4 linked regions of the Homo sapiens genome follow. The protein of the gene in region 3 interacts with the protein of the main gene of each other region in a pairwise test. Each region holds a gene or a part of one and is shown on either strand. Other genes may lie near its edges. The genes, in order: CYB5R3, MANBAL, TMEM115 and ASPG.

What was found.
Region 1: the proteins of TMEM115 (region 3) and CYB5R3 interact in binary tests that used the Homo sapiens proteins (3 or more experiments, as listed by UniProt).
Region 2: the proteins of TMEM115 (region 3) and MANBAL interact in binary tests that used the Homo sapiens proteins (3 or more experiments, as listed by UniProt).
Region 4: the proteins of TMEM115 (region 3) and ASPG interact in binary tests that used the Homo sapiens proteins (3 or more experiments, as listed by UniProt).

Annotation. Positions count from the first base shown.
Region 1 is NC_000022.11:42,618,389-42,625,412, forward strand, and holds part of CYB5R3 (NADH-cytochrome b5 reductase 3), read right to left. Parts: intron 5,501-7,024; coding exon 5,401-5,500; intron 1,558-5,400; coding exon 1,385-1,557; 3' UTR 1-1,384. UniProt on the Homo sapiens protein: Catalyzes the reduction of two molecules of cytochrome b5 using NADH as the electron donor.
Region 2 is NC_000020.11:37,285,540-37,292,663, forward strand, and holds the start of MANBAL (protein MANBAL), read left to right. Parts: upstream 1-4,115; 5' UTR 4,116-4,147; intron 4,148-4,729; exon of another isoform or gene 4,730-4,787; intron 4,788-7,124.
Region 3 is NC_000003.12:50,356,506-50,363,342, forward strand, and holds the start of TMEM115 (transmembrane protein 115), read right to left. Parts: upstream 3,017-6,837; 5' UTR 2,559-3,016; coding exon 1,708-2,558; exon of another isoform or gene 1,613-1,707; intron 1-1,612. UniProt on the Homo sapiens protein: May play a role in retrograde transport of proteins from the Golgi to the endoplasmic reticulum. May indirectly play a role in protein glycosylation in the Golgi.
Region 4 is NC_000014.9:104,081,591-104,088,706, reverse strand, and holds the start of ASPG (60 kDa lysophospholipase), read right to left. Parts: upstream 3,008-7,116; 5' UTR 2,937-3,007; coding exon 2,855-2,936; intron 1-2,854. Other genes in the region: uncharacterized protein LOC124903408, read right to left, coding at 5,772-5,847, 7,079-7,116. UniProt on the Homo sapiens protein: Exhibits lysophospholipase, transacylase, PAF acetylhydrolase and asparaginase activities.

The sequences.
Region 1 (7,024 bases), on a different chromosome or scaffold from region 3:
TAGCCGGGCGTAGTGGCGGGCGCCTGTAGTCCCAGCTACTTGGGAGGCTGAGGCAGGAGAATGGCGTGAACCCGGGAGGCGGAGCTTGCAGTGAGCCGAGATCCCGCCACTGCACTCCAGCCTGGGCGACAGAGCGAGACTCCGTCTCAAAAAAAAAAAAAAAAAAATACAAAAACTAGCTGGGTGTGGTGGTGGGCACTTTTAGTCCCAGCTACTCGGGAGGCTGAGGCAGGAGAATCGCTTGAACCCGAGAGGTGGAGGTTGTAGTGAGCTGAGATCATGCCACTCCAGCCTGGGTGACAAAGGGAGACTCCGTCTCAAAAAAAAAAAAAAAAGAAAAAAAAAATGCTAGGTCTTCCCCAGCCCTTTCCTGACCCCACCCCTTGTGTTGCAGGTCACAGACCCTCGAGGAGCTAGAGAAGGGTTAATATTAGCAAAGTTTTACTTTTTTTTTTTCTGCTCATAAATGACTCTGAAAAAGCCAATACGCAAGAGGCTAACACAACTGTAGTCTAAAGGCAACGTCGAGGTCACTGATATGTCCCTCAGACAAGAGGCACTGCTCAGAATCCCCCTGTGCTGGGGGTGAGGGAAGGAGGGGACGGTTTAGGACAGAGGAATAAATACATGTGGTTGTGGGAGTTCTGCCATCAGGGATGGTGGCCCCAGCCCAGGACCCCAAAACCCTGAGGCGGTGCAGTGGGCTGCCAACCCCCCAGCTCGGGGTTCCCCAAGGCTGCCTCAGTGTTTGGATGGGCTGGAAGGAAATGCTGAGGTTCTGGGAGGGCCCCATGGCCAGCCCCCTCTTCCCACTCTAGCCAGAGGAGAGCCAAGCTCCCGGCTGGCCAGGGCCCTGGGGTAGGGAGCAGTGCCCCCAAGAGGGCTTTCTGGTGTCAATGTCTCATGCAGCGTCAGGTGGTGAGGCCTGGGCCTGGCCCTGAGGCGGGAGTGGGGGTGACAGGCGAGGCTGGGGTGGGCCCTGGCACCTGCAGCTTTGGGCTGCCCATGTGTGTCTGCTGACATCCCGACTATGGTCCACGGCCGGGAATGGTGGGCAGACGGGGCTGCTGGCAGCCCTCAGCCTTATAGTGTGTGTGGGGGGTGGACGAGGGGTCATGAGGACAGGGATGGGGCTGGGCGTCTCTGGTAAGGACCAGTAAGTGCCAGGCAGGACGTACTCTGAAGGCTCAGCCGTGGCCCATCTGGGACACAGCCCTGCTCCCGAAGGGGCTCCAGGGGAACTGCTCAGCCAGGTGATTCACCAGGGCACGGGCAGGCCAGGCTGAACCCGGGGCCCCAGTGTGCGATGTGGGGAGGTGACTGGGTGAGCGTGAACAGGGCGTGGGGTGCGCGGGGCGGGTGGCCGTGTGACCGTGCCCGGCCCTCAGAAGACGAAGCAGCGCTCCGTGGGGTGGCCCACGTGGTCCAGGTTGGGAAGGCAGGCGTACTGGATCATGGGTGGGGGGCCACACATCAGCACCAGCGGCTCCTCCTCTGGGGGTGGAAGGTGGTCCCGGATCATCTCCTCATTCACGAAGCCCTGGCCGTAGTCCCAGGCTGTGGGGTGAGAGACCAGGTAAGCTGACGTGTGGCTGTGTGGTCACCAACCTGCTGACCGACCAACCCTAGGCGGTGAATTCCTTAAATGCTGAAGAATGGAGAGGCTGATCCCAGCAAACTGTCACCAGGACCCCCTGCCCCCAACCCTGACTCAAGCCTATGGCCTCAGGCCCTGCAGCCTGAAACCAGTGTACAAAGCCCATCATGGTTCCCCTGACTGCACTTTACAGTTTGCAAAGCCTTTTGCTTCCATTTGGCCTCCGGGGTGTCCCTTGGAACAACCCAGTGGGTGGACAGGGCGGGGAATATGAATCCCATTTTACAGATGTGGCAACTGAGGCCCAGAGGACCCAGAGTTGAGTTGCTCAAGATCACACAATGAGGCAGGGACACGACTGAGATGTACCTTCCAGGATCCAGAGGTCCCCAGGCTGGTGCTCTGCCCCAGGCTGCTCAGGGTGACAGTCTCTAACTGCCCCCACCTCCATGAGCCCACTGTGACTCCCCAAGAATGTCGGCCCATGAGGAACTGAGTCTCATCCACAGCTGTGTGTCCTGCCCCCTCGAGCCCTGAGCGCCCACGATGATATGGCTGGTCTCTATCCTTAGTAACCAGAAACAACCACCCCACAGCCCTCAACACCAAGAGAAAAGCTGCTGAAGCCTCAGGCCAGGAGGGCTGGCACTGGCTGACACAGACACCCTGCCTAGATGGCCCAAGTTTACAGCATACACTCCACGCTGTGAAGGTCCTGACGGGGAGGGGCCAAAGCAGTCCCGCTTGCCCTGGAACCAGGAAGAGTCTACTGTGCTGAGCAAGGGGGTCCTCTTTATCTCATGGACTCCATGAGCTAAGTCACTGACCACATTTCCCTTTTCACCTTGGCTGCTGGGAAGCCTGGAGTGATACGTGTGGCCCATTCACAGCAAGCGTACATTATAGTCCGTTTTTGTACAAATCCCAGTACTGATTCCATTCATTTTATAGCCCTGCACTTGTTTTTCTTTCACTCCCACTTTCCATTTGTGCCACTCTGACTCACCAGATGAGTCTTTGTAAGCCTCCTAAAATCCCTCTGGAACAAGGCGAGGCACAGAAAATAGTTTTATAGCTGGGCAATGGATCTGAAGTGGATCTGAAAGTACCTTGTAAAAACTGCATGGGCATAAACTGCTAGTGTACAAAATGTGCAGGTATGTAAGACACCTTTCAATTTCACAGCGATTTCTTTTTAGTGTGTGTGTGTGTGTGTGTGTGTGTGTGTGTGTGTTTTTAAGAGACAGGAATTGGCTATGTTGCCCCAGCTGGCAGGCAGTGGCTATTCACAGGTGTGATCATAATGCCCTCCAGCCTGGAGCTCCTGGGCTCATGTGATCCTCTTGCCTTAGCTTTGAATAGCTGGGACTACAGGTGCATGCCACCGTGCATGGCTTAATGTATTTTTCCCTGTACCTGTCCTGAAAGTGGCTCTGTGGGGGAAATACTCACTGCCCCTGCCTGGAGTCCTTGGGGCTCTCCTCATCCTTCGCTTAGCTACGGTACAGCCAGACTGGCCTGTTACCACTTTCTTTCTCAACCTCTGGAATTTCAGCTTACATTTAATGCTACAGCAGTACCTCAACTAATCTTGAATTGTGGGTCACAGTGGCAACAAATGTACACGAAAAATGCTAGGAGATCACCCAACTATTCCTCTCATTGGCAGGTAACTGTCCCGTGGTGGTGGTGCAGGTGCTGCTGCCTGTTGCCACCAGGGGTCAGCACTGGCCCCTCCCTGGGGGACCAGGCCTCGCTCTGGCCACAGGGCAGGGGCTCCTGCACGCACCAGGGATCTGGATCACTCATCTGGAATTGGGATGGGGCTAAACCCTGCCTCGCAGCAAGCTGGCCCCGCCCATGCCATTAGAAACTGCAGTCAGAAAGGAGCAAAGCAGCCTATCACTTCCTCCCTTTAGACTGACACATGGGTACAGGATAAAACGCTCTTTTCTTTGAGACGGAGTCTCGCTCTATCGCCAGGCTGGAGTGCAGTGGCACCATCTCGGCTCATTGCAACCTCTGCCTCCCGGGTTCAAGCCATTCTCCTGCCTCAGCCTCCGAGTAGCTGGGACTACAGGCACGCGACACACGCCCAGCTAATTTTTGTATTTTTAGTAGAGACAGAGTTTCACCATGTTGGCCAGGATGGTCTCGATCTCTTGACCTCATGATCTGCCTGCCTCGGCCTCCCAAAGTGCTGGGATTACAGACGTGAGCCACCGCGCCCGGCCTGCTCCTTTCGTTAGTAGAAGAGAAACAGCAGCTAGACTCCCAGAGCCAGTGCCCTGGCTGACCTCCGCTCCAGCCGCTGCCTGGCTCTGCTTGGCCCCCCACATCACAGGAACCCCGCCACCATAACCGCGCTATAATTTACTAAGAAACCTGCTCCCATTAGTCCTCTGCCTCCCCCACTGGAAGGTCAGCTGCGGGGTCAGGTTGGCTTCCTGAGCATACCAGGTGGAGCAGCCGACCTGGAGGGGGTGGGCTGACCCAGGACAGCAGGTCCAGCCAGAGGCCGGACACGGTGACAACCCACACATCCACCACCCCCTCCAGGCCTGGGTCTCTCAGCCTGGAGGCCTGGAACCCAAGCTGGTCATCTGAGAAGGGCGGCTGCTCCCTCAGGGATGGGCCCAGGTGACCCAGCTCCTAGGTGCTAGCCAGGTGGTGCAAGTCCCAGAGCCCATGTGCTCCTTTCTGGGAGGAGCAGAGGGTGGTGTGGACAGAGCTCCCTCATCAGTAGAGGGCATGCACCCCCTGACATGGATCATCAGCAGAGGGTGTGCGCCCCCCACCATGGATTAGTCCTGAGGAAACTGTGGGGCCGTAGGAGGTGCCGGAGGCAAAGCAGGGGCAGATGGCAGGACATGAGACCCCAAACTGGTGCTCACACGGGTATTCAAAAATGGTGCTTCCAACACTTAGAAATTTCCCAGAAAATGCAGGTCCCCAGCTTCTCTTGAAAAGCAGAGGCCCTGGCCACACAGGGCTATACTCCACAGCGGGATTGCCCACGGCGGATGGGGCTGTGTCCTCCGGACCAGGCAGATGCGCTCCAATTTACCGCAGTTGCCGCCACTCCCTAGTCTCTCAGCCCTGAAGCTAAACATCACCAGAATGTTTCCTGGGGAAGGCTGAGCTCTGCTTTTCTTACAGCAAAGAAGAAATTGAGATATTACTTATACCTACATCTCTATCTGAAGCCGAAAAGGGAAGGGCGCTTTAACTCCCAGAGGCAACCTCACTGCAAGTGGTGGAGGTGGGGCGGCCCTCACTCGCTGCCTCCAGCTTGGCTCTCCCACAACTCCCTTGGCAAGCAGCTCAGCCACTGGACAGGTGGAACAAGGGTAACCCCAACGTCGGCCCAGCCCACTCCCCAGGGCTGACAATGGGAGAGAAGATGGCCTTGGTGTAACTCGGCAGCACCTGAGAGTATGCACGCTGGGATGTGGAAGCAGCAGCCGCCACCGCTGCCCCGAGACTTGCCCCGAAGTGAGCCCCGCCCAGGGAGGGGACGCTGGCCTTCTCTGCCCAGCTGGGCAGTGCAGTGCGCCCGGGAAAGGACTCTGCCTCTGGAGGCGAGGACCTGGGTTTCAGGCCGGGCTGTGGTGGTTTCCGGCTGTGTGGCTTCAGTGAGCCCTTGTTCCTCATCTGTGAGACGGGGCCACACCACCTGCCTCCCACAGGGCCATAGTGAGTGCCAGATGTCGTCCAAAGGCTCAACGCCACAAACAGCTGGGCAAAGGTGAACTGTGGGCTGGCACCTCCCACCCACCCAGTGAGGGGCCTCCCTCACTCACCTTCAGGGGCTCTGTCCAGCGTGTACCAGAGCTTGAAGCGTGCAGAATGTTTGTTCCTGAGTTCCTCCAGCTCAGGTCGCAGCAGGATGTCCTTCTCGGTCTGCAGGGGACAGGGCCAGGCAGTCAGGAAGGATGGGTGGCAGACTGCCCCTGGAGACACTCAACAGAGACGCGCCTCGTCATCGCGCCCGCCTGCGGGCCACACGCTTGCGGAGCTTTCAGGAGGGGACTCGGCCAGAGATCACCCTGGCACCCCTCTCTCCTTGTCTAGCCTAAGGAGCCCCTCAAAGCTGCTGCTGAAGGGGCGAAGGCGTTCGCTAGAAACTCAGTGTGTCAACTGCTTCTGCTGTTGTGAGGAAATGGGCTCGATGTCCCGAGAGTGGGAAAAATGGAAAAAACTAAAGGCGGCCAAGCTGCGCGACAGCAAAAAGGGAAGAGACGGGAAATGTGCCAAGATACTCCAGGGGGTCAGCCCGGGAGCGGGTGTAACACATACAATAAGCAATGGCCCCGTGAGAAGGCTCAGGATTTGCACCCTCAGCCCTCCGGCAAGTCTTTTTGCGTTCTGGGATCTCATTCAGGTTGTACCTCCAGAAACCAGGAAGTACAGACACCACTCCCCACCCAACCTGGCCCCCTCGGGCCTTGCCCACACCCATCCTCCTGGCTGGCCTGCGGCTCCCCCACCCCCACCCGGCTGTCACAGAGCCCTACAGAACTCAGTCCAGCGTCATCCCTTCCAGGAAAGCTTCCTGGACCCTCCAGGGGCTATCAGGGATCTCCCCCTGAATCCCCCACCCGACTCCCCGCCCCCCACCCCCGTTCCACCTCTGATCACATCACAGGCTGCTGCCCAGCGTTTGCAGGTCACACAGGGACAGAAGGGGCTCCTTAGGTCAGTGTGCAGTGTCCCTGACCTCAGGGAACTCAAAGAAACCAGGGGCCAAAGAGCGCTGCCACCCAGAAAGGGCTGCCCACTAACAAATCGCTACTGAGCTCCCAGGCTGGGCAAGGGCGGGGTGGACTCTCCCCAGGAGGCAGCCACAGACGTGACTCCTCTGTTCCCAGGGCTGGGGAACTGCACCCACCCTCCGCGTAGCCCAAGGGTGCCTGAATACGGGAATCACCAGCTCCTTGGTGCTCCCCTCCAGCAGATGAGCTGTGTGAGGGGCATAAGCCTCAACACATCCCAGGGAACACGGGGTGTTGAACAGTTTTTCCAGTTTCTGAGGGTGGGAGGCTGAGGGCCCTTTCTGCCCTAATGGGGTGAGGACAGGGACAGGGACAGGCTTTGGGCTAGATGAACTCAAGGAAAAAAATACAGAAAATATGGAAGAAAAAGTACCTGAAACCCTTCAGAAATAATGACTGTTAGGATTTTTGTGTGCATCTTTTCACTTTTCTTTTTCTATTAACTATGTGTAACTTTCTTTTTAGGCCAGGCATGGTGGCTCATGCCTGTAATCTCAGCACTTTGGGAGGCTGAGGTGGGTGGATCACTTGAGCTCATGAGTTCGAGACCAGCCTGGCCAACATGGTGAAACCCCGTCTCTACTAAAAATATAAAGAATTAGCTGGATGTGGTGGCGGGCACCTGTAATCGCAGCTACTCAGGTAGCTGAGG
Region 2 (7,124 bases), on a different chromosome or scaffold from region 3:
GAGAGAAAGAAAGAAAGAAGGAAGGGAGGGAGGGAGGGAGGCAGGATGGGTGGTATTGGGGCTGAGCCCTATGGAAAGAGAATGAACCTGTCTTGTGGAGAGCCAGAAGACAGCATTCTAGACAGAGAGACCGACAAAGGCAATGGTTTGAAGGTGGAAAAGCAAATGTCGTACCTCTACTTTCCCTTTTCCACATCCAAATCCAGCCCATCATTCGGGACCCACATTGAGCTGCCTCCCTCACGAGGCCTTCCTAGATACTTCGGCGCGTGCTGATCCTGCCCCTCTTCCTAGAGCTTTCATGTGTGTACACTCATCTGACATGCACAGGTCAGCTGGGTAGTGCAAAGGTTATGCATGCAGACTCTGCGAGGCCTTAGGGAAGCTGCTTAACTTTTCCAGCCTTAGGTTTCTTCACCTGTAATGCCTACTTTATAGGGTGCTGGGGGAGAATATTGATACGTGTAAAGTGCTTGGCACCTTTACACATATGAATATGCAATAAACAGCAGCTACAATTAATACAAAACTGGCTCACTCAGTCAAGTGTGACTCCAAGAAAATATTTTTCAGAGAAGAGGCTACGGCTTTTTTGGCTTTTTCTTCTTCATTGTGCAATCACTGTGCCTTGCATAGATATTAGGCATAGAAATAAGCCTGCCACAAAGCTCTCCTCCGTGCTGTGGTGCTCATGGAGCCATGCAGGGCACAGAGACAGCAAAACTCAGCTGGAGGCCTCTAAGAGCTTCTAGAGAGTGAGCAAGTAGCTGTGCCTGTCATTGTGCCTGCAGCAGTCACTTGGGCGATCTTTTACATTTGGATACAGAGAGTAACAGGTTTCAAAGCACCTGCACACCTGGATTAGTATGCTGGGGCTGCTCTAACAAAGGACCACAAACTGAATGGTTTAAACAACAGATATTTACTTTTTCCCAGTTCTAGGGACTAGGAATCTGAAATCAAAGCGTCAGTGGCACCTTCTGAGGGCTGTGAGGAGCCTGTCCCATGCCTCTTGACTAGCTTCTGGTGGCCTGCTGGCAATCTGTGGTGTTCCTTGGCTGTAGAGGCATCGTCCCGATATCTGCCTTCATCTTCACATGACGTTCTCTCTATGTGTGCATCTGTGTCCATGTTCCCCCTCATTTAAAATAAACTATTTCCTTTTTTAGAGACAGGGTCTTGCTCTACCACCCAGGCTGGAGTGCAGAGGTGCGATCATAACTCACTTCAGCCTCCAACTCCTGAGCTCAAGCGATCCTCTCATCTCAGCCTCCTAAAGTGCTGGGACTACAGGCAAGAGCCATCGCGCCCTGTCAAAATTTCCCCTTTTTATAAGTACAGCAGTCATACTGGATTAGGGACTACCCTAACACTCTCATTTTAACTTGATTACCTTTGTAAAGCTCCTATCTCCAAATAAGATCCCATTGTGAGGTACTGGGGGTTACGGCTCAAACACAGCTTTTTGGAGGGACACAATTCAACCCAGAAAACACTCTCCTCACTCACACCCTGCAGTGTGTCTCTCCAGGGCAAGTAGTAAGTCCTGTCCTAAACATCTGCACCCTGCAGGCCTCAGTGTCACCCCCTCAGCTATTCTTAGGCTCCAAGCCGTTTCTCACTACCCAGCCTTTCCACCACCCATCGTGCTTTTTCCTCCTTCTCTTTGCCTGGCAAAGTCCTCCTCATTCTTCATTTCTTTTTTTGAGATGGAGTATTGCTTTGTTGCCCAGGCTGGAATGCAGTGGTGCGACCTCGGCTCACTGCAACCTCTGCCTCCTAGGTTCAAGCAATTGTCCTGCCTCAGCCTCTCAAGTAGCTGAGACTACAGGTGCACACCACCATGCCTGGCTAATTTTTTGGGTATTTTTTGTAGAGACGGGGTTTCGCCATGTTGCCCAGGCTGATCTCAAACTCCTGGGCTCAAGCAATCTGTCCACCTTAGCTTCCCAAAGTGCTGGGATTATAGACGTGAGCCACCACTCTTCATTTCTTACCAGAAATGTGATCTCATGGACGTCTTCCCTCATCACCTCTCTTTTGATTGTATCTCCCATGTTATTGCTTCTCTCATGGCTCCCCCTTCTTCCTTCCCAACACATCTCATGGTTTTTAAGTGTACATTTATCTGTGTGATTGATTAGTGGGGGTGACAGACATTGACCCCTAGTCTATAAGCACAGTCAGGGTAGGATCCCACCTACTCACCATTGTCTTCCCAGTTTCATAGTGCATGATCCAGAGTAGAAACTCCATAAATATTTTTTAAATGAATAAATTATGCATTTTGGGTCCCCCATGCCACCTCACATAGTATGGGATTAGTGAATGTTGAGTGTATTATTTGTCTTCTAAGAGACTGAATTCCTTTAGGGCAAGATAGGTCTCTCTCTCTCTCTTTTTTTTTTTTGGAGTCTCTGGTATCTAACCTCTGTTCCTTGATCCTCTATGTATGTTATCTAGGCTGCATAACCAATTATCCTAAAACTTAGGAGCTTAAAACAATAACATTTAGTATTTCACAATTTCTGTGAGGCAGGCATTCAAGTGGCATTGCAAGGTATTTCTGGCTCAAGGTTGCTCTTGAGTTTACACTGAAGATTTTGGCCAGGCCACAGTCATTTGAAAGCTTGACTAGGACTGCTGGAGCCACTTGGCTCATACACATGGCTGGCAAGTTGGAGCTGGTTGTTGGCAGGCAGCTCAGTTACTCCCCATGCGAGCCTCTCCATAGGACTGCTTGAGTGTCTTCACAACATGGATTCCCCATGAGCAATCAAGACAGAGGAAAGAGGAAGTTGCAATGTCTTTTATGACTTTATCTTGGAACTCGTGCTCCAAGATTTCCGCAATATCCTATGGGTTATACAGGTCAGTCTTATTCTTGGTGGGAGGTGACTACAGAGGGGTATGGATATCAGGAGCCAAGAATCGTCAGGGTTTATGGTGGAGGCTGGTTATCACACTCTCATCTAGGTTTCTTTTTCTCCTACTACTTGCCCCCCACCCCTTCTTAATCATGGAACACTGTTCTTTGCCTTCAAAAAACTTATCCTGTTATATGATTACACATTCATTTAATTAGTCTGTCTCCCTCCAACGGACTGTAAGCACCACAAGGGCAGAGACTGTATGTGTCTGCTTTAGCACTGTGTCCTCAGTTACAAGGACAAAGCATAGAGTACGCGCTCAGTGAATGCTTTTTGAATGAATTATAATGATTTGCTTCTGTCTGAATTACAAGAGGTGTTTCTGTTTGTCTCCTCTCTGCATTGTAGGCTCCTAGCTCAGGACCTGGCATAAAATTAAGGAAATGAACGTGAGAAACACTTTTGAAATAGTGACAACACATCCAGATGAACATTTTGCAGGACAGCTACACACCCGTTTTAGCTCACCAGCTACCAGTTGTGACTGTGCTCTGCTCTGGGAGATGGCTTAGCTTTGCATAGGACAAAATTCTAATCTAGTTTCGCGCAGTTCTTACGAATTTGTTACAATGAGACGGGCCAAGCTATACAGCCCATTGCGATGAATAAGTAACTTTTTTTTTTTTTTTTTTTTTTTTTTGAGGAAGAGTCTCATTCTGTCGCCCAGGCTGGAGTGCAGTGGCGCGATCTCGGCTCACTGCAACTTCTGCCTCCCGGGATTCAAGAGATTCTCTTGCCTCAGCCTCCCAAGCAGCTGGGATTACAGGCGCCCGCCACCACGCCCGGCTAATTTTTGTATTTTTGGTAGAGACGGGGTTTCACCATGTTGACCAGGCTGGTCTCGAACTCCTGACCTCAAGTGATCCGTCCGCCTCGGCCTCCCAAAGTGCTGGGATTACAGGCGTGAGCCACCGTGCCCAGCCCCGAGAAGTAATTTCTTTTGTTTTCTTTTTAATTAAACAAAAATGTTGCTGAAACGAGCTGAGTGATATAGGAGCTTAAAGAATTGACAAGCTCTAGATTTCATTTCCCCAAACCTCTTTGTCCAGCTCGAACCCACAGAACAGGGACAAAAGTCGACAAAACCCAGCGGTGCCTCACCCAGAAACCTGGCAACGCGGGCGGAACAGAGCCGGTTGGTTGCTCAGTGCGCGTCACTTCCGGGACTCAGGGTCGCAGGGAACTACTTCCGGGGGAGCGGCGCGGCGGCGCGGGAGGTGAGTGCCGCAGCTTTGCGGTGGGGTGGGAACCGAGAGAGAGCCGTCCTCGGTGCGGTGGCCTGGCTTTCCCGGCCGGCCTGTCTCCAGCGGCGCCGCTTGGTGGGCCCGGCTGTCGCTCCGCTCAGGGCCTGAATACGTTCCCTCGGCGGTTGTTCGAAAGTTACTTCCGGAGGGGAATTTGAGCCCCCCGGGAGGCGGAGGGCCTCGCCTGGGGCAGCCCTGCGCTTTCGTGCGGAGGCTGGGCCAGAACCCAGGGCTCCTCATGGCCTGGTCCGGGCCTTTCCTCCCACGGGTGGAGCAGTAGGAGAACCCTGAGCTCCAGAGTGAATCTGGCCAGGGTTCGAATCCGTATGGCTCTCTTACCGTGGGCAAGTCACGGTTCCTCTCTGGCCCTCAGTTTCGTCTTCTAAAATGGACATACACGCTTGTACTGCGGGGTAAACCGAGGTGGTGAATGTAAAGCCCTTAGTAGGTGCACAGTCCATGTTTGTTGTACGAATTCTAAGAGAAGCGAGAAATGAATATGAGAAACATTTTTAAAATGGTGACAACACATTTAGATTAATAATTATATTTTGCAGGGCATCTGCACACCAGTTTCAGCCCACCGGCTACCAGTGTGACTTTGCCCAGAGAGGTGGCTTAGCTTTGCATTCTAATCTAGTTTTGCGTGGTTCTTAGGAATTTGTTTTAATGGGACGGGCCAGGCTGTACAACCCATTGCCATAAAGCGGTAACTTCTTTTTCTTTCCTTTTTTTTTTTTTAAAGCCATTCTATTTATTTATTTAGAGACGGAGTCTCTCTCTCGTCCACGCTGAAGGGCAGTGGCGGGATCTTGGCTCACTGCAACCTCCGCTTCTTGGGTTCAAGCGATTCTCCTGCCTCAGCTTTCCGAATAGCTGGGATTACAGACGTGTGCCACCACGCCCGGCTAATTTTTGTATCTTTAGTAAAGACAGGGTTTCACCATGTTGGCCAGGCTGGTCTCAAACTCCCGACCTCAGGTGATCCACCCGCCTCGGCCTCCCAGAGTGTTGGGATTATAGGCGGGAGCCACCACACCCGGCTTTTTTTTCTTTTTAATTAAAAAAAAGTTGAAATAGAGATGGAGTCTCACTATGTTTTCCTGCCTGGTCTTGAACTCCTGGAGGCAAGATATCCTTCCTCCTGGACCTCCCAAAGTGTTTGGGATTACTGGCAAGAGCCACTGTGCCTGGCCTAAAACAGTAACTTCTGACACTGGTTTCTATTCCCCAGTCTGTTTTCAGCTGAATTTTCACAATAGAATTTAAAGTTACTTCATTAGAAGCCAAGAATGGCCTACCAGCACAGTACACAACATTGGGAGATGAAGGCCTGTGGCAGTCGTGAAATCTGAGTTTTTCAGTCTTAAGAGAAGATTTAGTATTTGCTAAGTCTTGAGAGCTATACTTGTCTCAGTGGTTTTTTATTTATTTGTTTTGAAATGTTGACCCATTCTTTTTTTCCCCAATAACCTTTTTGTTTTAGAATAATTTTAGATTTACAAAGTTATCGCAAAGATACTTCAGTGAGTGCCCATATAGCCCACGTTTCCCCTATTACTAATATCTGAAATGTCACAATTACTGAACCAATATTGATACATTATTATTAACTCTAATCTGTACTTTATTCACATTTCCTTAGTTTTTCCCTAATGTCCTTTTTCTGTCCTGGTATTATCCAGGGCACCCTATTACATTTAGTCATCATATCTCTTTAGGCTCATCATCTCTGTGATCGTTTCTCAGACTTCCCTTGTTTTAGATGAACTTGAGGGTTTTGAAGATAGTACTGACTGGTCAGATATTTTGCAGAAGGACCTTTAATTAGGATTTGCCTGTTTTTGACATGAGTAAGATCAGGGTAATGGGTTTTTGGGGAGGAGGACCACTGATAGGGTTCGGCTGTGTCCCCACCCAAATCTCATCTTGAATTGTAGCTCCCATAATCCCCCCATGTTGTGGGAGGGTCCTGGTGGGAGACAATTGAATCATGGGGGTGGGTCTTTCCCATGCTATTCTCCTGATAGTGAATAAGTCTCAGGAGATCTGATGGTTTTATAAAGGGCAGTTCCCCTGCACACACTCTCTTGCCTGCTGTCACATAAGACATGCCCTTGCCTCCCCTTTGCCTTTTGCCGTGATTGTGAGGCCTACCCACCCATGTGGAACCGTGAGTCCGTTAAACCTCTTTTTCTTTATTAATTACCCAGTCTCGGGTATTTCTTCAAAGTGGTATGAAAATGGACTAATCCAACCACAGAAGTAAAGTGCTATTCTCATCACATCATATCAAGGGTACATACTATCGATATGAGTTATCATTGTTGACATCTGTTAGCTTGAGCCACCTGGCTTGAGGTAGTAGTCAGGCTTTTCCAGTGTAGAGTTACTTTTCCTCCTGCACTTTCCGCACTGTACTTTTGGAGAAAGTCATTATGTACAGCACACATTTAAGGAGTGTGGAATTATGCCCCATGCTTAAAGGCAGAGTATATAATGCAAATTATTTGGAGTTCTCTGTGGGAAATTTGTCTGTTCCCCTATTTTTTGCTTACAGAGTCATATATTTGTATCGGTGTGAACTCATGGATTTGTTTTGTTTTGAGACAGGGTCTCCCGCTGTCGCCCAGGCTGGAGTGCAGTGGTGCAGTCTTGGCTCACTGCAACCTCCACCTCCCGGGTTTAAGTGATTCTCCTGCCTCAGCCTCCTGAGTAGCTGGGATTACAGGCACCTACCACCATGGCTGGCTAATTTTTGTATTTTTAGTAGAGAGAGTTTCACCATGTTGGCCAGGCTGGTCTTGAACTCTTGACCTCAGGTGATCCACCTGCCTTGGCCTCCTGATTACAGGAATCCCCTCTCCTGGGATTACAGGCGTGAGCCACCATGCCGGGCCTGAACTCATGGATGTTTATTTTATACTTTGGACCAGAATCCAGTACTACT
Region 3 (6,837 bases):
GAGGCAACAAGGGCACAGGTGTAGAAAGCCCTAGCACGCTTCCCCCCTGCCCGTCAGTCTCACACATGACAAGTTGGTATAGACAGGACAGTCTTTCCCTGCTGCTACCCAGGCTGCCATCCTGATGATGCCCTTGCCAGTTCCATCTAAAGCCTGCCAAGGCAGAGAGCTAGTGTTACGCTAGTCACTTCCTCACAAGGACCAGAGAGACAGATAGGAAACCCTGCCTCCCTCTCCTGGTAGCCCTTTGGAGTTGGGCGTGGCCATGCAGTCAGATGTCAAACTGGCTGGAGGAATAACCGCCACCCCCATGTAAGCTAACAACCATAAGGCTATGCCAAGAACCCGCCTCTTGACCCTCCCTTCCTCCCCACCAACCTGCTTCCCCCCTGTCCATTTTCTTGGGCCTAGGCAGAGGTTTTTGAATGTCCAGCCAACCCTAACATTCCAACACCTCTCAGTGGAGGAGGGGTCCCCACTGGCCTGGCCCCACCTGAATGGCTCTGAGGGACAGCTCAATTCCTACCAGGCCCAGCTCACCTGGCCCCATCTTTAATACCAGCTAAGGTTAAGAGAGACTTCTGTCCTTAGGGCTTATCACCTATAAAGACCCAAGCTCTAGGGCCCAGAATTATGCCCTGCAGCATGCTGTATATACTTTTCAACACCTACCATACCTTGGGCCATAGTGATCTGTGGCCCTTCCCCAGCTGGAACTCCTTCAAGAAAGGAGTGTGTCCCACACTCAATTCCATAGCCCAGTGGAGAGTAAATACAGGGATAACTGCAGCTAAATTCATAGAGCTTCCTGCCACAACCCCATTCACAGGTGAGCAAAAGCAGGAGCCTTGGCAATGCAAAAGACAAAGCCCGTCCCAGATTTTACTACTCGAGTAATTGCCTCAAAACAGTGAGGAATAATGTTGGAAATGGAGCTGTGGATCTTATGAAGGCTGGGACCACTCTGCTGGCTCCACAGATCTGGGAGAGAGAGTAAGCTGAATTTAAAAAGATCCCTCCTGCCCTGGCCAAAGTGCATTCAGTGAATAATTCAGCTGGGACTCCTGATGCTGTGGATAGCTTGGTTTACAGATAATGAAAGGGTCATCGCCACTCCCTGGTGTCAGCAGGCTCCCTCAGTGGGTCATGTAGCCTGTCCCTGGTTTTGGTGACACATGCTTGCTGGAGACAGAGGTAAATGTGGTAATACCCCAAGCTTCCCTCTCAATAAGTAAGTGGCAGAGAAGCACAGCATCTGAGTTAAAGCCCAGGAAGAGGACACAGCATTTGGAAATTGGAGTGGCCCAGATCACCTTTTGAGGACCCCAGGCCTCCTTCCCTGTCCCTTCCTCACAGGGGAAAGTACCAGCAGGTTGCTTCTGGCTCCCACAGGCCCAATGTCTAGGATTCTGAGATTCTGAGGCAAGGCCAGGGTTCTGTGTCCCTCCACTGGGACTTCACAGCACCAAAGGAAACTGCATTTCTTGAGACTTATTAAGTGGCCCGAGTGGTGAGAAAAGTGCCTCGTGGACCCCAGACACCTAACTGCTGAGTTCCTTAAGGCCAAAGACTGATTTTGTCTTTCCGGATGTGCCCCAATACCTGACTGTAGGTCTCCACCTATGTACAGCGAACACCTCAACAGATGGCATGTGACTCGACCAGTATGCTCCTAGCTTGACAAGATTTTGGAAAATTTCACAGTACCTTCTCCGCTCGGCGTCTTGAGGGTCTGTGCCTGGCAGGCTGATGGTGATGGAGGATGGGGCACCCACATCGTAGCGCTTCACCGTCTTCTGGCATATCTTTACCTTCACCAGGAGGCTGTGCACCAAGTTCGCCAGCAAACCCACCACAGGCTGCAGGATCTCAGGGAAGAAAGTGGCGAAAGCAAAGTGGTCAGCCATGTCCCCTCGGCCCCGGCTATGGCGCTGGTAGAAGCGAAGATATACCCAACTGGAGAGCAGCCCGAAGCCATAGGAAGCCAGCGCCGGGCTCTGGAGCAGCGTGGCGAGCCGCAGCAGGAGCAGCAGCGCCAGCAGCAGCATGGGCATCACACTGACGCGCACCTGGGGCACTCGCAGGACCACACAGTCCCCCATGGTTTGCTTGAGTGCCACCAGGACGCCACCTAGGAAGCCCAAGGCGCCGTGGATACGGACAGTGAACAGGTAGACCAGGTTGAAGGAAGCCATGTAGGTGAGGAGGTAGGCGAAGGCCCCCAGCAGCCCTACAGACACATTCACCACTGAGAAGAAGATGAGCAGCTCCAAGGCCCCCCAGAGGGGCTCCAGCAAACGCCCGGCCACCACCACCGTTGTCAGGCTGATGGCCACGTCCCACACATGCTGCTCCATCAGCCCATGGGTGGCCAGGGTCCAGATCCAGAAGTTGGGAGGAAAGAGGTAGCCCGGGGTGACCGCCAGGCAGCCTGTGTCCACGGCGAAGGAGAGCAGGTAGAGGAATAGTACCGCCGCACACAGAGCCTTCACCACCACGCTGGCGCTGGCCAGAATGGCCCCCAAGTGCTGGCGGGCGCCTGGCAGGGCACGTTGCATCTTCCTGGCGGCTGTCGGCCTGAGAAAAGGGTCTGGTAGGCCAGGGGCCTCCCCGGGGCCTCGTCCTAGTCCGGCCCCGATGGGAGGCCCAGGCCCGGCCTAGTCACTGGCCTATGGCCCTGGTAAAGGATCCGCTTCCGATCGGGTGGGGCTCTGGTCCCGAGGGGCCGAGTCGGGCCTTGTTGCCGGGCCGCAGCGTAGGCCCCTCGCCCGGGACCTGAGGGAAGGCCCTGGACGGCTGCGGCACGCCCGCCTACCCACCCTGTAGGCCCCGTGCCAGGCTAGCCTGGTTGGCGTTGACCTCAGGGCTGGGCCTCCTCCATCCACTGCGAGGCCCTTCGGTTCGCAAGGGGACTGGTGCCTCGTTCTGTACCCGAGTCAAGCCTGGTCAGCTCCCGCTCGGCCTGGCTCCTGGCTTCGACCGTACCTCTTCTCTCGGGGGGCCGACAAACAGGGGTGCTGCGCCTGCGCGTCCCCGGCGGCAGCGGGCTGTCCTCTAAGCGCCTGTCTTCCGGCTCCTCTGCATGCTGGGATACGGAGTCCTTGGTTGCAGCCGGGGAAGAGTTGAACAGGGTTCTGGCTAGAACTACAAGTCCCAGGAGGCCATGAGCACGGACCGGTCCCGTTGTGGTGAGCGCGGGGTGTGCTGGGAGTTGTAGTTCTCAGGGACCGTTTCCGTCGGTTCTCAGGAGGTGGGAAGGGATGAATTAGCATCTCTAACCCCTGAAAGCGGCGGTGAGGGTTCGGGAAGCAACACAGCTCTAGCCCCCACACTTGCTGAATTCCCTAGGAAGAGTAGCTCTATTTGTGCGTGTACCTCTGAGCGAGTGTGTCCTTGTTGGCTGGCGTGTGGGTAGGTGTCACTGTGTGAGAAACAGAACCTCCGTGGTCTGGTGAATGGGACCTGACCCAGGCTGGAACCCTTGCTCTGCCTCGGAGGCTGTGTGGCATTGGTTGGTTAAGTTCCTGAACCTTTTTGAAACTCAGTTTCATGGGCCATAAAATGTAGCTGATGACATGATCTTCCTGTCCTAATAATCAAAGGGGAAAGGGGTGTAAAATGCCAGTCCACCCTGGGTGCTCAGCGAGTGCTGCACATGTTGCCTTTTTTTGTTTGTTTTCTCCCACTTGGAAAAGTTTTTTGTTTGTTATTTCACGTTGCCCTTTTTCCAAGTGAGGTGGACCTGGAGCACGAACCTAGGGCTCCCTCCCGCATAGGGACGAGGCTGGGCAGCCCTCAGTGACCCTCCTCCCCACCAGGGACTTCTGATAACTGCGGAGGATGAGAGGTCTCTCTACAAGCCAGGTCTCTCCACAAGCCTGGGCTAGGCCTGTTCTGGTCCCACTTCACGCCACAGTGACTTCTGACAGGTTGTGTTCTGTGTCTTTTTTTTTTTTTTGTATATGGAGTTACTTTTAAAAAACTGTACATATAGGCTGGGCACGGTGGCTCACGCCTGTAATCCCAGCACTTTGGGAGGCTGAGGCGGGCAGATCACCTGAGGTCGGGAGTTTGAGACCAGCCTGACCAACATGGATAAACCTCATCTCTACTAAAAATACAAAATTAGCCAGGTGTGGTGGCACATGCCTGTAATCCCATCTACTCGGGATGCTGAGGCAGGAGAATCGCTTGAACCCGGGAGGCGGAGGTTGCGGTGAGCCAAGATCATGCCATTGCACTACAGCCTGGGCAACAAGAGCGAAACTTTGTCTCAAAACAAAACAAAAAGCTGTCCATATAATTAAAATAATTCTATGACAAAGTGCTTTTATAAAACACAGGATCCCTTCCTTTCAGCCACTGATTTCAGTGTGTGCTGATGTGTGCATGGCCTACAGGTTAAAAAGGGTGCTGATGCTTTTTTTCTGGGGTCTGGGTTCCCACTGGTTGCCACATCTGGGTAAGGTTGCCAGTTTTAGCAAATCAAAATAAGGATGCTCAGTCAAATTTGAATTCCAGATAAACAATGAGTAATCTTCGAGTATAATCATGTCCCCCTGCCCCCTTTTTTTTTTTTTTTTTTTTTTGAGACAGGGTCTAGCTTTGTCCAAGGCTGGAGTGCAGTGGCACAATCATAGCTCACTGCCACCTCTAACTCCTGGGCTGAAGGGATCCTCCAGCCTCAGCCTCCTGATTAGCTGCGACTACAGGCACACACTACTGTGCCCAGCTAATTTTTAAAATTTTTTTATTTTGTAGAGACATGGGCAGGGGCGGGGTGGCCATCCTACCCAGGCTGATCTCGAACTCGTGAGCTCAAGCGATCCTCCTGCATCAGCCTCCCAAAGTGTTGGGATTACAGGCGTTAGCCACTGTGCCCAGCCCCCAGTTTTTCAGTATAGGTATGTCCCACACAATAGTTGAAACACTTCCATACTAAAAACTCGTTCATGATCTGAAATTCAAAATAGGGTGTTCTGTATTTTATCTTACAACCCTATCCAAGATTGCACGGTCTCTTGCAGGCCATGGGAGCTGTCTTGGGGGTTGTGGATTAGGCATTGCTCTGCAGCCGAACCCTGCAGAGGAGACAGAAAAAGTCTCCATCTTGGCTGAGGCCTCGAAGCCCCTTCATCTATTTAGCATCCAAGCTCCCCAACCCTTGGTGGCCACCTCTTCTCTAAAATCTTTGCTGGTTTTTAGCCTTCTCACCTGGGGGGAAAGGCTTTCTCCTCTTAGTTTGCTCATCTGTGGTATGGGGATACACTAGTACCCACCCCAGAGACTGTGGCGAGGACTCAGCCAGGTCAGTGCGCAGAGAGCAGAGTGTTGGGAGGAGAGAGAGGACTGTGGTGGGAAGGCAGGGACACCTGTGCTCTGGTGGTTACAGGTTATAATTCTCTCCACATGAGAAGATCGCAAAGGTCACACCTTCTAGGGTGAAAATGAACTAGGGCCTAAGCTTGAGAGGATTCACAAAAATGAAGTTTGGCCTATGGCTCCAGTTTAAGCAGCTGCGGCCTCAAGCTCCTGTGGGCCAGGAGGGAGCCGTTGCTGCACTTGTGGTCAGGGCTTCCTGGGCCGTAGGGACACTGGCCAGGTGCTCACTCATAGCTCCCGGCAGAGGCCCTGTCAGGCCCTGGTGGTCTGACCAGACTGCCAGATCCACCTCCCCACTAAACCAGCATCTCTGATCTGTCTTCTTCCCTCCAGGGTCCTGGCTTTCAGGCTCTGGGAGGGTGTTTGTTTTGCTTGTATTTTTTTTTTTTCTGAGACAAGAGTCTCGCTCGGTCATCCAGGCTGGGGTGCGGTGGCGCAATCTTGGCTCACTGCAACCTCCGTCTCCTGGGGTCAAGCAATTATCCTGCCTCAGCCTCCTAAGTAGCTGGGATTACAGGCGCATGCCACCATGCCTGGCTAATTTTTTTGTATTTTTAGTAGAGACGGGGTTTCACCATGTTGGCCAGGCTGGTCTCAAACTCCTGACCTCAAGTGATCTGCCCGCCTCGGCCTCCCAAAATGCTAGATTACAGGCATGAGCCACCGCACCCAGCCTGTCTTGCTTGTTTTTAAAAGACAGCTTTTTGAGATGTTATGAGACAATGTATGTCAAGGGCCTGGCACCTATTATAACTGGTGGAAGCAAGTGCCATGCCCTGTGGTTGACAGGGACCTGGGCTACCATGGTCTTCACCCCCTGCAGAGCACTAAGTGGGACTCTGAGGTCTTGGCCAACTGTCTTCATAGCTACCCAGTCCTCACCCCCAAGCTGATACAGTGGATGGGAACCATTTGAAGTGAAAATATGAACATTATTTAATAACTGATCTTCTGTAATAAACCATTTGAAAATATTTTACAAGGAATCACACACACGATATTTTACAAAGTTTCTTGACTTTTTTGTCGCTGTTGTTTTTCCAACTTGTCTGTACAAAATAGAACAACAAAAAAAGGGCAGAGAAAAGGAAATGGCCCCCCAGTCCCCCAGCCCAAGGTGAGGGGCAGCCAGGTCGGGTGGGTAATGAGAAGGATTAGACCCAGCTGGGGGTTAGACAGCTACCTGATGGGGATTGTTTTGTCTGTTTTTCTGTTTTTTAAACTTAAAATATATATTTTTCTGTATATGTTTATATTCTCCATTGAGCACCTGACTACACTACAGTTACACGCACGCCCCCGAAGGACACAGCTGGCATCCAGGCCGGGTGCACATGGACACCCACCCTGGCACCAGCAGTGGGCATGGACCACACACACACACTGAGAAAGCGACAAGCAACATGACATTAATTAACGAAGCCATTAATTAATGCATCACCCTCCCCCTCCTCC
Region 4 (7,116 bases), on a different chromosome or scaffold from region 3:
GCCAAGGGCACAGACGCCACTGCAGTAACCAAGAAGCCATGGGCATCACTCCACTGACACTCTCGACTGCTGGGACCCGTGTGGTCACCGGGCAGGGAGCTTCTCTCAGCTGCCTGGCCCCAGATCTCTGCCCTCCCTGCTGTGCCTGCAAGGAGCCGGGCTCAGGAGGGACTTTGGGACAGGCCGGCAAGCAGGTGGGGTTCCCAGTTTGACATAGGAAGTCTTCAAGTTTCTCGGGTGTACAGAACGTGGCCACTGATGCCAGCTTGGGCTTGGGGTTATCAGCCGTGTTTGGATTCGCTATGCCCCTTGACCTGTGATAGCTTCAATGAACTCAGAGAAGGGATGGGTCAAGGGGCGTCCCCACTGGCATCACCTCTGCCCTCCCTGAACTCTGGCAGGGCTCCAGGTGTGCAGCGTTCCACCCACAGGTCACTGTTTACCAGCAGGCGCAGAAGCCGTTCCAACAGCGACAATCAAACAGCTTTACTAGGGCAAAGCCACCACTCCCCTCTCACCTCCCCAGGGAAGGCCAGAGCCCACGTCAGCAGTGTGGAGGGAGTAAATCATTGACGCCTGACAGTCTGGCTGCTCCAACCTCACGAGGGGTTGGGGGAGCCCATTCCTGCAGGTTCCTGGAAGTGGATGCCCCACATGGGTCAGCTAGCAACAGCTGGGGGTGACCTCGCAGCCACACGAGGACGGGCTGCTGAGCAGAAGCCAGGACCCCAGTGCACAGAGCACCAAGGGATCTCAGAAGGCTGCTTCAGGTCTGAAGACTGACGCCCCACACCCAATTTCCAGCCTCCAAGTCTCTTGTTTCCCACCCAGACACAGGACCTCACAGCCTCTTTCAGAAATGCGGTGCACGCGTGTGAGTGCACCCACAGGCTGCTGCGGCGAGCACGCGGGGGCCAAGCGAGACGGGTGTGTGGTGGGGTTACAGAGTCCACCTGCCCCTGCAGCTCGGACCACTCAAGAACTACATGTTGAGCTCAACGAAACTGCAGTTGGCCACACTCCAAGCCTGAAGGGGTAGCGTCAGGGGCGTCGGACGAGGCCCCACACAGAGTCCCCAGGTCCTGTCCCCACTCGGGGGCAGCTCTGGCAGGCTCCGGCCCTGCTGGGCTCCCCACTCCTCTTTCCTGCACCTTGCAGGGCTGCTCCTGGCCTGGCCCTCTCCCATCTTTGTCCTGCAGGCCTTGTGTCCTCAGAGAAGCCCTCCCTGGGCTGCCTCCAAACTCCACACCATCCACACACCCAGCTCAGACCCTGTTATCAGCCCACAGCCCCTACAGGGCCCTGGCAGATCCTGCCCCTGGGACTAGCTCCTTAATGCATGCCATCCCTTCAATGGCAGCCTCTCTCTCTAGCTTGTGAGGGCCAAGCACAGGAATTGTGTCACTCTGTGTCAGTGGAGTGTCACACAGGGGCGTTTGCCAAGCTGTGAATGACTTTGTTCCATTCACAGGCAGAAGGAGAAGTGCAGAGGAGGCTCCCGGCAGCCTGGACAGCCACGTTCTTGGGGACCTGAGTCCCTCGTGGACGAGCCCCACTAGGCTTTGTCTCCTGGGCTGGGCGCAGAGTGGGCCTCCAGAGGGGTCTGCACCGGCCACAGTGTGGTGGGTGGAATCTGAGAGCACCGACAGAGTGCTGGTGGCTTCTGAGCAGCCACTTCAGCAGAAAGGGGTGGCCAGGAGGGGCAGCTGCCAGGGAACAGGCCGTGAGAGGGGGTGGGGATAGGAGGGGCGGGGAAGTGGTTGGCAGATGGGCAAGGGACAAGAGAATGTTCTGGTCATGCCAGGGGAGGCCCTGGGCTCTGGCAGAGCCGGAGAGGGTCCCAGCCGTCCCAGGAGAGAGAGCTGCGCTGGACACAAGCAGGAGTGTGGGGAGGGGCCAGGGCAGCAGGGAGTGGGAGGAGGAGGAGTGGAAAGGGCTCCTGAGGGAAAGGCAGGCAGTGGCCCATGGAGGGTCGCAAACAGGTTCAAGACGGGGCGAGGGGGCTGTCCTGGCCCCAAGGGAGGCCCCACATCACAGCAGAGCCCATCTGGGGGCCCCAGGCAGTGTCCTGCCCTCCTGGGGAACACCCAGGCATTCTGGAGGCTCCAGTGCAACCGTCCTCTCCCCATCCCGGTGGCCTCAGGCTCCCCAAGCTACCATCCTTCCTGTGCCCAGCCCAGGCTGGCAGCACTGTGCTGGAGTACCACAGAGCTCGGTGCCTGTCCCAGGCCCTGACCCCACCCAGGCAGAACTCAGTCCAGACGCAATCGCTGGTCTCTGGTCAACCAGGTCCACACAGGGGCAGAGGAAGCAGGGCTCTGAGGCCACCTCGGGTGTGAACACGTGCGTCCCCGCAGATGCCAGGTAGCCCCAGTATCGTGCCAACCACTGCTGCCTGACCAGGACCCCAGGGGACGGGGACACCCTCCTGGGTGTCGCAGTTGAGGGGTCCTCGCAGCCTCCTAAGCCTTCTCCAGGGCAGCCTCCTAAGCCTTCTGTGTCCAGAGCAGGAGCGGCAGGCCAATGCCCTGGGGCCCTCCCGCCCCATATTCCAGGACTTCAGGACGCTGGCCCTCAGGGGCGCAGCGGCAGCACAGGGGGCCTGGCCCCAGGGTCGCAGGGCGCTCCCGGGAGCACCGCGACGGCGAGAACCCACCGCAATCTCCTCTGTCCAGGTCGGGGCTCCATGCGTGGGGACGCCGGTGGCCGGAACCGGAGGAGAGCGACCTCAGCCCGCACCCCCCATCCAGGCGCGGATTTGACTCCCCAACGACCCCCGTGGGTGCAGGAGGGTCCGAGGCTCCCGGTCGCGGCCAGGTCCAGAGGCCTACCCCGCCCAGGGTCTCGGACTCACCGCCGAGCTCACTCCGCATGCCAATGGTGCCGCCGGTGTAGACGGCCAGCAGCCTCCGCTCGGGCCCCACCGCGCGCGCCATGCCGGACCGGGGACCACGGGAGTGGACGGGGGTGTGCAGCGGGGACGCAGGGCCTGCGGGACTCAGGGACTGCGCGGAGGAGGCCCGGGGCGCCGGGGGCAGCCTGGGAGGGCGGGGCCGGCGGGGGCACCCACGGGGAGGGGGCGGGAGTGGAGTCTGCCCGGGAGGGTGGGAGGCCCCGCGGAGGCGGGCGGGGGCAGGACCTGGGGGCGGGGTGGGTCCCGGGGACTGTCCAGGGTCGGAGAGAGAGGCGGGGCCTGGCGGGGTGGGGGCGGGGCCTGGCGGGGTGCGGGGCGGGGCCTGGCGGGGTGCGGGGCGGGGCCTGGCGGGGTGCGGGGCGGGGCCTGGCGGGGTGCGGGGCGGGGCGCGGCCTTGGAAACGTGTAGGAAGAGGTGAGGTCTGTGAGGGCGGCAGGGGGAGCTCCTGCCTGGGCAGGAGATTGGCTGGGGCCTGCTTGGGGCTGGGGAGCGCCTGTCCAGGGACTAGGGGGCAGCCAGAAAGGCAGCGACAGGGGTGGGGCGGGTCCTGAGCCATCCTGCGGCCATTGGCCCTCCGTGGCGGCCCTGGGTGTTTGAGTAGCTGTGACATGTGGTGCCTGGCAGACCGTAGTGCCCGAGGCCCTCCACGACCTGAGCACAGAGGGGGCTCCGTGTCCTGTCAAGCAGCCTCCACAGCCCCGGGGCTCCAAGGCCGGCATTGCTGCCCAGGCCCTGCTGTCCCTCCTTTGGATGGCCAGAGGCAGGCAGAGCTGGACCAGCCCCTCCACATGTGCCCATTCACACACCATCCAAGAGAAGAGCCCGAGGGGCCCCCAAGGGCTGGAGCGGGACAGAGCAGGAGTATGGCCTTCTTGGACAAACACCGCCATTTTAGGTTCCCTTTGATTAAAAAGCTGCCTAAATCCAGCCCAAAACACATCAGCCCAATAGCTAATGTCAGCACGACCGTAAACCACAAATAACATCTCCAATCAGAAACATGCCAACCTCGAGATAACCTCCCCTCCGACCAGAGACATTCCAAGCCCGCAATAAACTTTCCCTCACATAGAAACATTCCGAGCCTGCGATAAGCTCCCCACTTCCTAAACCCTTAAAGATCCTTAGTCTGTAGGAGAGATGGCTCCTGACCAAAATCGGCCAGAAGTCCCTTTCAGGTTTATTCTCCAAAATAAACCTGCCTTTGTTGAGCCGCTTTTCATGTTTCTTTCCTCTTTCTTTAACTCCTACAGAGCCCACCCTCCTTCACTCCCATGAGAGCCCAGGAGGGCAGGGCACTGGCGGGTGCAGGGTCCCAGGAGGGTCCCAAGCTGCAGGCTTGCTCCCAGGTGGACAGAAGATCCGCGGCCTCCTCGTCTCCTGGCACCTTGACTGCCTGGGGCACTGATGCACTTTGGTGGGAAACTGTGTGTTGCCCCCAGAAGGCACCAGCATTTGACACTGATTCCATAATAAAAATTATTATTATTCTGTTGCCTGGAGGGCAGTAGCAAGATCTTGGCTCACTGCAACCTGTGCCTCCCAGGTTCAAGCAATTGTCTTGTCTCAGCCCCCTCCCCGAATAGCTGGGATTGCAGGTGCACACCACACCAGGCTAATTTTTTTTTCTTTTTTTTTTTTTGTATTTTTAGTAGAGACGGGGTTTCACCATGTTGGCCAGGCTGGTCTTGAACTCCTGACCTCAGGTACTCCACCCACCTCAGCCTCCCTAAGTGTTGGGATTACAGGTGTGAGCCGCCATGCCCAGCCCCATATAATTATTTTGATAACAACAGTGCAATAGTGCAAAAGTAATCTTGTCTGCAGAGAAGCAAAGGCATTCTGCCCAGCAAAGGTCTGTGTTAGTTTTCTGGGACTGCAGTAACAGAACGAGTGATTTACAGTGCAAGGAGGTCTACCTCTCACAGTTCTTGGGGGTGGAAGTCTAAGGTCAGGGTGTCACAGGTTGGTGTCTCCTGGGCAAGCAGATGGTGCCTTCTTGCTGTGCCTCACAGGGTCTTTCCTCTGAGCAGTCACGCATCCCTGATGTATCTCCAGATGTCCAGACTTTCTCTTTTTATAGACATACCAGTCAGATTGAATTTGGGGCCTCATTTTAATTCAACCATCTCTTTAAAGTCTACCTCCAAATACAGTTGCATTCTAAGACACTGGGGTGTGGGGGACTTGAACATTAGAATCTAAGGGAGACAATCCAGCCCATCACAGCCCCCTGAAAATCCAGTTTCAGGTCCATTTGCACAATCATGTCAATATTCCTCATCTGTAAGTGTCTGTTTCAGGACTTCTCTTCTGAGCTGGTCCTCACAGCTGCCTGGGCTAGGGAAGCTCTTCGACGCATGCTCACCCTGCATCCCTGTGAGCACCATGTCTGGCCCTTTCGGGAATCATCCTTTAACAACCCGCCTGCTACCATAAATTCTAGGAAAACTTGTCTGGGGCCAGGGCAGCCTTCACTGGCAATAATCCTCACTGGAGTGGCTTTTCTCCCAGGTGCAAGGAGCCCCATCAGGTTTCTGCTGCTGAAACCTTGCAAGCACCAGGACTCGACGCTGCAGCTTCACCTGAAGACACTGCCGGTCTTTGGACGAATCCACTGTCCTGCTTTGCTTTTGTCTGCGTCCACCTACATCTACAGCGTCCTTGGACGGAATCTTTCATGCAATATATGTTGAAGGCTGGCTCTGTGCCAGATGCCTCTCTAGGCACAGGGGACGCAGCCCGTCCTTCTGAGTGTACCAGCCAGGGTGGGGGCCATAGTAGACAAAAATACCAGCGTCTGGCAGTGACAGTGCCTGGAGGAACACTCAGGGAACACGGAGACAGGCAGTGCTGTTTACAACAGGGTGGCCAGGGAAGGCCTCTCCGAAGGGTTGGCATTGGAGCAAAGCCAGCATGCCAGGCGGGACAGGCTGCCAGGAAGGGACAGGTGCTGAGGCCCGAGGCAGGAGTGAGCATGGCCCCACAGTGCCCAGGTCAGTGGGGCGAGAGCACTCAGAGGGAGGGGATGCCCGCTGAGTGACTGTGGTGCCACGCAAGGACTTTCAATTTAACCCCAAAGGTGAACACCAGCCCCACCGAGGGTTGGGCTGGTTTGTTTTAATCTCTGGCTGCTATGTGCGGAGACTGAGACAAGAATGGGTTCAGGAGGGCTTTGGGCAGGGTGGGGAGGAGCTGGGGATGGGGAAGTGCAAGGTGGGAGTGCTGGGAGCACAAGCTGGAGCTTGAGGGGTACGCGCCGAAGAGAAAGGGTGACTCTCCTGTCTTTGGCCAGAGCAGCCACGGAGTGGGGATGTCCTTACTGAGAAAGCAGGGGCCAGAGTGGGGCCTGGGGCCAGGCAGAGGGAAGCAAGGTGTGTTGGACACATCCTGCTTGGGGGCCACCTGGGCAGGTCCAAGGAGACTCAGCTGCGCGTCCTGCAGTCAGTGGCACAGGGACCACAAAGTCGTGACAGCAGCGAGGTGTCAGCAGAGACAAAGGCCCTAGTCTGAGCCTCAGCATTCTGGCCTCAGAGGCCAGGAGGAGGAGAGAACCCAGGACCGCGAGGGGAGAAGGCCAGTAAGTGATCTTCACGTGAAGTCCCGGGGCTTGGTGAGGGGAGGCCAGAAGCTGGCCACGGTGGAGCAAGGTGGAGGGTGCTGCGGCCTCACCCCGGGTGAGTGGCGTGGAGGGGCAAACGTCTGTCCCCCTGGAGGGACACTTGGCCATCGCTGTGCTGCCTGCTGCTGAAGGAAGGGCTCCCCACCAGGGGCTGGGTTAGGAAGGTGTGGGGTGTGCCAGTCGCTCCCTGGCTCCTGGCCCCCTGGCTCCCCAGGCAGTGTAGTGCCAGGAGGTGAGTCCAGGGAACCTAGGCAGCCCCAGCCAAGTCCCCACGTTCTGCCTGCCCCTCCTTTATTTTTGATTGTTCAGAAAAGTGTTTCCTTGGCCACCCAGGGGTCTCCTCGTCCCCTCTTCTCTCTCACTTCCCATCTACACCCTCCCCAGTGGCCCTCCTTCCACACAGCGCAGGAGAGTTCTGGGTGGGACCCTCCCAGAGTGTTTATAAAATCCACTCCGGCCCCAGCCCCACCCAGAGCAGAGCGGAGGGACATCTGCCATTTGACAGTGCCCGGTGGTCCGGACCACCCTACAGCCCTGCCTACCTTTTCTGCAGCCCTGCCTGTCTTTTCTGCATCTCTTC